Regions from separate parts of the Homo sapiens genome. Here region 2 is linked to region 1. Evidence: fine-mapped expression QTL. Tissue or cell type: whole blood. Region 1 holds a variant in brackets; the other region holds the start of a gene. All regions are shown on one strand. Distances are between the middles of the regions.

Evidence for each region. PIP is the estimated chance that this variant, and not a neighbour inherited with it, causes the effect.
Region 2: it holds the start of ANKRD22, and the variant in region 1 is fine-mapped to the expression of ANKRD22 in whole blood (INTERVAL, PIP above 0.99). The same link has a PIP of 0.9 or more in unexposed skin.

Annotation. Positions count from the first base shown.
Region 1 is chr10:88,812,328-88,817,481 of GRCh38, reverse strand. It overlaps LIPM (lipase family member M), which reads right to left. Exons shown (of 9, transcript NM_001128215.1): 3 at 4,187-4,385; 4 at 2,843-2,952; 5 at 2,258-2,394; 6 at 1,979-2,125; 7 at 595-666. Among named protein-coding and RNA genes, the nearest start is that of LIPM, 12 kb to the right of the region's middle. The variant G/C (reference allele first, on the strand shown) is at 3,017.
Region 2 is chr10:88,849,667-88,854,820 of GRCh38, reverse strand. ANKRD22 (ankyrin repeat domain 22) reads left to right here and starts at 2,977. Exons shown (of 6, transcript NM_144590.3): 1 at 2,977-3,234. The coding sequence starts at 3,214.

The DNA.
Region 1 (5,154 bases):
TAGCAACCAAAATTTAATTGAACTTATAATTCTTCTCTGGTTTTGATGGTACAATTGCTCTCTCTCTCTCTGTCTCTCCCTACCTGTCAACAGAGAGAACTCTCTCCTTCCCCCATCCCTCTCTTTCACACACACCACATAGACACACAGAGGTGTGTGTTTCCTGTAATTGCAGGTAAAGTTTGCAGTGTGAAGGACTCCTGTGAATATCTCTTTTGACAGACCCCACATTAGCATTTTTGTTTCTACTTGACTGTATTGTTGGAGGAGCTGAAGAGAAGATGTAGAAACATAATTATCTCCAGCCACATCTTTGAGGTGTCTAGAGACAGAGAGAAGTCTCACTTGGATCATCTAAATTCATACTTTTAAGATCTAAAGAAGTTCTTAGGCTACTTCTGTCCTTTCTTCCCATTTCTTGAAAAGTTTCAGTGATCTAGATCAAATTCTCCATCAAAATAGCATCGACGATACTGCATTTCATCTTAGAATAAGTGTGAAATAATCCCTGGCTTATCTAAATGGTGTCCTTTGACTATTCTACACAAAATATAACAGGACATTTAGCAAAGACTGCAAATTCAACATTCTTACCTGGCTCCAGTGTAGAATATTTTGCACAGATGTTCCAGCAAGAGTGTGGGCAGCATATACACTTGCTCGGCTCTGTAACAAACCATGAGTATTCTGGGGGACATAGAAAAACTCACAAGATGTATACCCTGTCAAGACCAAATCTCCAGGGTGTCAGACTAAGAAATGGTAACATTATTAAGTTATCAGCAATTATCTATGAAACAAAAATATGTACATGCACGTAAATAAAATGTCATTAAATGTATTGCCAGACACCGGTATTTTTCATCTGAGAATAGGTTCTCATCAGAGATCTGGCCCCTAATTAAAAAAAATTTTACTAGTGATATTTAGGATGAGGGCTCTAGCATTGGGCCTGTATTCAAATCCTAGTTCTGCAGTTTAATTTTTAGGTGAATTTGAGTGAGTCACTTAATCTACTAAATCTTAGTATACTAATCTGCAAAGTGGGGATATTAATAACACTCATAGGCTTGGTATAGGTAATAAATTAGCCTGATACATAATATATACTTTTCATATCCTTACTATAAATCAAATTATTAATCTTAAAGAAGAAGAAAAAATATTCAGAATTAAGGAAATGTTGCCCCAGCTGCTGGGAGTGCTGCTGGCAAACAGCCCTCCACTCTCAGTCTGCTTTGAGGATTGCACCAATTGTAGGCAGATACATTGCCCAGTGCTACCCTGTTACTGGTATGGCTACATTAAATGACTGACTGATATGGTGTATAAAGACCCAACCCTCTCTTCCTAACTTGAGACGGTTCTGAAGGGTCATCCTATCTTCAAAAATCCCTGCAGGATCAACTAAGTCTCCTATTGAGACTGCATCACTACTTGACTTTTTCACCTACCTAGTCCTGTTTCTTTTCCTTCTCTAGGTATTATCCCTAGAGCAGGACCCAAATCATTGTTCACATTAACCTCCATCTCAGAGTATGCTTCCTAGGGAACCCACCCAGTGATACCAACTGGTAGCCTAAGCCAAAATGAAGGTCCCTGATGTTCCATCAAAGAACTTAAACTACAAACCTACAGGACCCCAGTGCAGGGTAGAGGTGGATGATGCATGACAGTTGTCTCTGTTGTCTAACATGTGCTAATTGCTCTTTTTAATTTAATTCACTGTAGTAAAGCTGCTTTCAGACCTCTTCCATCTATAATCTGTGATTTAATATCAGCAATGCCCTTATGTTAACCTTGTTTCAGTCCATACTGAAGCATTTCCCTTATTTCCTTACAGTTTGCAGAGAACTGAGTTACTGAGAATATATCATTACTCTGAGTCTTCACTGGCATTAGCTCTCCCTCCAGGGGTGAGCCATATGACTCCCAGCTTTATGCTGGGATGCTGGGAATTTACTAGGCTCCCACTTACCATGTTCATATTGTTGGTGTTGAATCCACCCAGAAGTAACATGATATTACTACAAATCTGATCAAGAATCACCTGGCCACAAAGGTAAATAACAAGTTGTCTGAGAAATCTGGTCTGATACAGAAATTCTTTTTTGCCAAACAATCCCTGTGAAAATATGAAGTGACATAGACATGACAGACAGAAAAGATGTGACTGTAATTTAAAAGTTTATGTTTTAGGAAATTGGGCTGGAAGATTTTTCTACGTACACAGGAAGTTTTCTGAGGAGTCTCATACCTTGATCATCATATCTGGCAGCAACAAAAATTTGGTCCCGGGGCTTTTTGCATGCTTAACAGTGGCTATGGGTGCTAAAGCAAAATACATTTTGATTTTCTGAGCCAGCTCTGGCATGGTGGAAAATGCAATAAAGCCTGCAAAAGAAGAAATATGTCAACATGAATACGAAATATTTTTAGAACTCATAAAATGTATATTTTGCTTTTAAATACATATTTCAATAAGTATATATGTGACTGCATCTTACCTCTCCTATAAAATTATAAGGTCCTTATGACACCAGCATATTTGCTTTCAAGTAGTAGGTGCTCAATGAGTTAAATAAATAATTGAATAACACGATGTTGGCTTTGAGAAAATATTTATATTGAGAGATATGCTATATCTAGACACATATAGCACAGAGATATGCTATATCTAGCACATATGTCTATATGCTAGACACATTGCTGGGGACTACATGATTCTGAAGATGAAAAGAGCAGGTCTGAAGGAAGCACAAGGTGACAGATTTCAGGGATAGCTAGTGTCGTATGCTCACATTTCTTCCGAGTATACAAACCTGCTTTTCTTTGAACCTACCCATGGTGGTGCCCTGTGAATAGCCGACATAATAGATCTTTTCCTGGCCCGTTTTCTGCAAAATAAAGTTTATCACTGCAGGAAGGTCAAACCTAGCCATCTCATCATAACTACAAGGGGAAAAGACAAAGTTATATGAAAAATTATAATCAGAAACAAACAAAAGCTCCCCCC[G/C]ACACCAGGTTTACAAACAAGCCCTTGAGTTGTCAACTCTGACAGCTTGTTACCGTGTCCCTCACAACACTCAGAATGGATTTCTTTCAAACCTATGAAGCATGGGTGCCTCTGGAGTCACAGGCTGTCAGCAAACTGCTGTTTTCTCTAGATGTTATCACGTAGCAATAACTATCTTCAGTGAATATTTACTGAGCACATAACGCAACTGCTAGTGGAAGTGTCCTGTTCTACTGTTAAGCAGAACCGCACAGGGCTCTGCAGATTCATTTACAGGAATAGTTGTAAAGATGCTGAAGTGGTCCGTCTCTGATAGCCATAAAAAGTGAGTTGAACATCAATAGGTAATTTAAATAAAAGAGTTAAAAATCTTTTGTAAGAACATGAGAGGTAAGTCAAATCGATGGTCCCTAGGTGATATGGTTAGGCCTTGTGTTCCCACTCAAATCTCATCTTGAATTGTAATCCCCATAATCCCTGTAATCCCCATGTGTCAAGGGAGAGACCAGGTGGAGGTAGTTGAATCATGGGAGTGGTTTCCCCTGTGCTGTTCTCGTGATAGTGAGTTCTCATAAGATCTGATTGTTTTATAAAGGGCTCTTCCCCCTTTTGCTCAGCACTTCTTGCTGCAGCCTTGTGAAAAGGGTGCCTTGCTTCCCCTTCACCTTCTGCCATGATTGTAAGTTTCCTGAGGCCTCCCCAGCCCCGCTGAACTGTGAGTAAATTAAAACCCTTTACTTTATAAATTACTTAGTCTCGGGCAGTTCTTTACAGCAGTGTGAAAACGGACTAACACACTAGGCTTAATAGTTTCCTTTCTTTTTTTTTAATGCTGCCTGGTCTCTTTTCCTTCTGGAGTACTATTATACTATTACCCGCCCCTCCCCATGAGGAAATTGATCTACACTTCTCTCATTCCAATCTTAGTCACCTGACACCAACCACCATTCTCACCCTATTAGCTAGACCCACCTTCTACATGGGGAACTCAGCATTCCTCACTACTTCAACCAAGGAATCACTAGTTAATTAAGAAAACTGGGGGATATCATGTTAAGATAATGATGACTCAACCAAAATAAATCAACCAAATACTAGAAGCCGTAATTTTTTACCCATTTTTTTTGAAAGACAGACATGTCTACCTCTGTTCTCGAGATTATCATATACCTGAAAGCCCAGAACTCATCTTGGTCTATGGAGAGTGTCTTGTGTTTTCGAGACCAGGCGTTTCCCCTGCTGTTCCCCATCCACACGTCAAAACCAGCATCTGCCAGAATGAAGCCCAGGCTATTGTTGGGCAGGTTGGAAATCCAGTTGCTAGCACCTCCAACTAGGCCATGCTGCAGTAACACCACAGGCCTGGAACCTGCAAAAAGAGAAAATTTCAACTGTATGAAATGTTCTCTCCCTTTCTTGTTGTCCAGTAATGAATAAGAGCTTTCAAATCAAACAAACCTGTGTTCAGATCTTGATTCAGCTGCTTGCTAGCTTAGTTATCTTGGCCAATTACTTGACCTTTGGTGTGTGCCTTGATTTCCTCATCAGTAAAATAAGATTTTTGTTATGCTTTAATAAAATAGAGCACAAGAAATGGATGGCATGTTGCCCGGCAGAAAAAGAATCTATAAAGTTTAACTTCTGTTCTTTGTTTTGTGTAATTATTATCAGACTTGTCTGGGCTCTTCAGAAATATTGAAAGTGCCCCAGTAGATGGTATAGTATGATTATTAAGGTATATGTATACCACATATATATAATGGTTTAGTGATTAAGAGACCTTCATGTCAAAAGGACCCACAAGCCAGCTTGAAGGAGCTCCCACTGTTCAAATACAGAAATATTGAGCATCAAAATAATTATAGTAAATAATTATATCCCATTGAATAAATTAAGAATGTTCAAGTCCATATAGAGACCAATAAATAAATGAACAAATAAATAATTGGAAGGAAAAGCTCTTATTTACAGAATGCCAATTAGTAAATACAAAACATTGATTTACAGTACAATACCCACTAACAAATTCAGAAAGATTGAAATTATCAGTGAATGTTAAAATTAGTGAGTAAAATTTAAAGACAGAATACTACATATCCTGAAATTATCTTCCCATAACTTATTTGTTAATTACAAAA
Region 2 (5,154 bases), 37 kb before region 1:
TTTTTAATAAACTGTCGCTCCTGCTCTAAAACTTGCCTTGGTCTCTTCTTCCATCCTATGGCCCCCAGTTGAATTCTTTCTTCTGAGAAGGCAAGAATTGAGTTTGCTGCAAACCCACACAGATTCACTGCTGGCTGGTGACATATTTTGGTGCCGTGTGACTCAGATAACTTCCACTGCTAATGTCAATGTTGGACAATGTTAGATAATGTTGAAGGATTAAGATATCAGCGTAAAACTGAGTTTCTGTGGACTATACTTCTTTGTTATGCTCTACTGAACCCCTCTTGGGGGGAAGTCTTTGGGATACACCTTACAAGAGACTCATCTCTCACAGACAGTTGGCTGCTGGTCAGTGGAGGTTGGCTGCATTTACAGCCAGGATCAAAGGATGCCACTAATTTTAAGTCCCTAGTGTTTAATTCAGATTAAACACTAGGTTTATTTCTTGACAGAAGACATTTGTCTTCTTGACAGTGTTATTTCTTGACAGAAGACATTTACCTGTGAAAGCTGTTTTCTGGAACTTCTTTTCTTTACCTGTCTTTGTAATTATAGGCTCAAAATTGCCAGAGGAAGAACCCTAAACACTTAAAAATATATCTGTTTATCCAACTTCATTCTGACAATATGCCTCCGTATTCCAATTTGACACTATAGTTTACGAAGTCCTCTTCCTTCACCTTTAATTCTCCTTTTGGCTTAGACTAGAGTTTCTCTACATTAGCACTCTTCTGAGCTGGGTAATTCTTTGCTCTGAGAGGCTGTCCTGTGCACTGTAGGATGATTAGCAGCTTCCCTGGCCTCTGCTCCCCACATTAGAGTACCATGCTCCCACTCCTAGTTGTGACCACCAAAAATGTCTCCAGACATTGCCAAATGTCTTTAGTTTCCAATAAAACGACGTTCTCCATTAAGCAACATAATTTTTTAGTGTATGTATGTCCCATATGACATTTCAGAAATTTATCTGAAATTCAAATTTAACTGAACATCTTATCTTTTTCGTTGCTAAATCTGCAGTCTATCTGGGGGCGAGATAACCCCTGGTTGAGACCCAATGGCCTAGAGTTAAATCCAAGTGTTTTACAAATAACAATGAGTCAACTGCTTTTTTCATTGGTTTGTTTTTTGAGCTAACCCTACATCATTTGCAATTATAATGAGTACTGTTCCTTTAGAACCAGATGTTGTCAAGAGATGCAGAATCTAATAAAATGAGTTTTGATCCTGATTGAAAGTTAAAGAAACATTTAGAGCTCAGTCAGGGAGGAAAGAGCTTGAAGAAGAAAGCTAGCAGCAACCTTAGGAGAGAAGCAATGACAGTGAAGAGTTCTGTCCACACAAATTAGTTGAAAGAGGTTACAAAAGAGGCTACCAGAGGTTACAAAATATTGCATAACAGAGTGAAGTACCCAATGGATATACCATTAATGTTTTTCTAAGTCAATGGGAAGACACTTAAATGTCTTAAGAGTCTACAGAAATACAAAATCAAACCAAGCCAAAGAGGAAGTCAGCTGCAATTTTAGTGGGTATTGCAGACTTCCCTCTCCTCCAACGGAAGAATTAGCTAATTCTTAAACTCCAGAGAGGCTGGCCTCGATGTCAACTGCATAGTGAAACATAAAATCTTTGAAATAATTATAAAAATAGCTCAGTATATCCACCAGTGGAGTAAGAAGAATTTCCCTGAATATTTATAAGCACAGGCCTAGTATCCTGGTCACTAGTTTCTGGCCACTAAGGAGCCTCAACTGATTGGGAAAATCACATCAATTGGTTTGAGATGGTTGAACTATTTCTTCCATGATATTATTGAGCAAATAGGCTTGCTGCCCCCTGCTCACAGAAGCCAATATCTGGACACTGGGTTTTGAGGAAAGAAAAACTTTATTGCAAGACAGGTCAGCAAGGAGACAGGAGGTGGGCTCAAATCTGCCTCCCCAGTTTGGAATCTGAGAAAATGTATGGCTTAGAGGGTGAGGGAAAGGATTTAGGAATGTTGGTTTGGCAGGGACTGATTGAAGGGCTTCAAATTTGACCACTAAAGGTAAGGTATGTTGAGGCAGATTTCAGCCCTGGATCTTTTGGGCCAATGAGCCCCTAGCTTCTGAAAGAGGTCCTGCATTTAGGTTCCCGTCATGTCCTTGTCTTCTTGGTTCCCAGGGGAGGGATCATTTGTTCTAGGTTCTGTTAGAGGCAAAAACATTTTTATTGTGCATGCCTGGGCTAAATGACTTACAGTTTTTGGCTCTGTTATATCTACAGAGTAAATTGACATTTGTTATCAACAAAGTACGGCCCATTTGGGCTGGTCCCATGGTTATAATGGGTGTGTGGACGGTCGAGTGTTTCAATTCTGGGAAAGTTTGATGTGATTGTATTCAGTTCAAGGAAAATGTGTGAATGATATCATATATAGCATATAAAATGTTTACAATATTTAAGAGATTGGGCATACTAGCATGTTTGATAAATAAATTGATGATGCAATTTAAAATGCATAACAGAGTATTTGATTTTAGACTTATGATTTTTAAATTGAATATTATAAAGTAATTTGGCTAAATGTGTGAATAGTATTGGAATATTTAAAACAACTTAAGATTTATTATGTTAGTAAATTTATTAGTTTACAAAACTGCATAAATAGCTGGAAAAGCGTTACTTGTTAGGCTGAGAATTTTGAAGATTATTTTTCAAGTTCTTTGCCAGACACGTGTGGCTCTCACAAGTAAGTTTGTTGGTCTCTAGCCTTTCTCAATGGCCACTGAAAACCAGATTTTGATTACGAAATGTCTGAAATACAGTATCTTGGTTTGAACCGTGAGTCCTTCCTGCCAATGTAAGAACTTTTCTTCCTCCCTTAACTTTGCTTCCTTCTTTCCTGCATGTTACCACTGGCAGAGCAAATATGACTCAGAAACCGGCTCCTCAGGGTTGTAACATTAGATGATACAGGCTTGGGTCGTTACACATGACACCAGTGCCTTTGTTTCATTGGGCTGGGCTCTCTGGAAGGTGTGCTGCTGCCTGAGCTGCTGGAAAAGCACTGACAGGTGTTTGCTAGAAAAGCACTCCTGGAGCTTGCCACCAGCTTGGACTTCTAGGGACTTTCCTCTCAGCCAGGAAGGATTTTGATATTCATCAGAAATACCTCCAGAAGATTCAAGGAGCTGTAGAGGTGAAGTAAGCCTGTGAAGGACCAGCATGGGAATCCTATACTCTGAGGTACATCACCTTTCTGAAAGCAGAGTTCCAAAGATGTTAAAAGTTACTCATGCTTTTCAGATGCAATTTTCTATCCCTGTTAATATATTTCTGTTTTGTCTGTTCAACTCCCTGGGGGAGCATTAAGTCAGAAAAAATAAAGTCCTATGTGTTATTCTTGTTGATATTCTTAATAGTTTAAGACAAAGTATTTTGTAATTCTAAAATATTAGCTAGATCTAAGTTGAGATGAATATAATACACATTTCATAGTATCTGGATGTTTGCAAGGATAATTTGGACAAAATCGAGTTTGAGTTGTGCTTTTCTCATGACAAACACTCAGAGAAAAAGAGAAAATTGTACTCAATTGGATTTTCTAAATATCCAAAAGATTGACTGCCTCTTTTATGGAACCACATGACCAGAGTAATGCCTTTCAGCTTGGTATTTGAAGGGAGATTCACCTTTAGTAAATATTAGTAAAGACTATCACTATGAAGAAGAGGAATAATAACATATTTTGATGATTTGATTATTTTCTTTTCACATCTGATAAATACTGAGGTACTTTTACTTGTATTGGAAGTAACTTATTAGAATCAAATGGATTTTTAATGATGTTTCAAGAAAGTACAAGCAAGGAATGTTTAGACAAGAGTACAAGAGGTGTAATGATGTCATTATACATAATTTACTCTCTCTCTCCTCTGACACAATTAACTGGTTAATCTGCATTTCATTGCAGATGCTCAGGGGAACCTTCTTGGATAGTTTTGATCTAGTATTAAAGACAGTTTATTTGCAGTTATTTCTAATGCCATGTGTGTATATATCTCTCCGTGTGTGCAAATGCAGTGTTTGATTGGTTTATAACTCTAGGTATGTCTTGCTCAGTGATTTTAGCCTCATGAAGGGATCATATACATGAAAATGACAAAACATATAGTGCTTTTAAATGCTACTCTGGTAACTCTCAAACTTTAGACTGCCCAAGTGTCAGGGAGAGAAGTTTGTTTGAAATGCAGTTTCAAGGGACTCCAACCCAGAGAGTCTGTTTCACTCAGTCTATGGTAGGATACAAAAGTATACTTTTTAAAAGGAGCATCCCAGGTGGTTCTGACATAGGGGTGATCTGTTTACCACCATCCTGAGAAAGAAAGACTGCCACAGGCCAGTGCTTTCCCGTTTTTAATGTCTATACAGATCTTCTGAAGGTCTTGTTTAAATGCAGATTCTTAGTTTGTAGACCTGGGTGGGACCTAAGATTCTGCATTTTGGTTGCTTTTTCAGATTGCATGTGGGAATTATATGTGATTTGGAAAAAGGAAAAAAAAAAGCCTAGTCTCATCCTCAGGTATTCTGATGTAGAAAGTTGGAAGTAGGACCTTTCATCTATAGTTTTAAAGAGTTTGAGACTCTTTAAAATTAAATAGTAATCTCTTAAATATTTAAACATAGCCTACTCATTTGTAATATATCATTTGCTCTGTGTTTCCTAAGGATAAAGATTGTGAGCTACTCATTAAGGACAAGAAAAAAGCCTGCTGGATCCCTGGTCCTATGTTGCCTGGAAGAATCTATTCAAAAAAAAAAAAAAAACTTCCCCCAATTTGAGTGCGGGAAGCTCCTCTAGATTGGGGACATAGGGTTATCATTTTTCCTTAGAGCTTTGCAGTGCTAATAGTTATGCAATATATATTTTTAAGAAAGAAGGAGAGAATGAGGGAGGATCCCAGAGAGCTGGTCCTGAAATCTGCACTAGAGGATAAGCTTAGAGCTCAGTGAGAGGCCCTAATTTTGAATAAGTAACTCCAACTGCGTAAGATGGACTTTTAAACAAGGCTGATTCATTTAAACCCTTATCAAAGGTATTTGTTCATAATATTTACAATAGCAACAAACATGTATTTAGGGCTTCTTATAGATTAGGCCCTATTT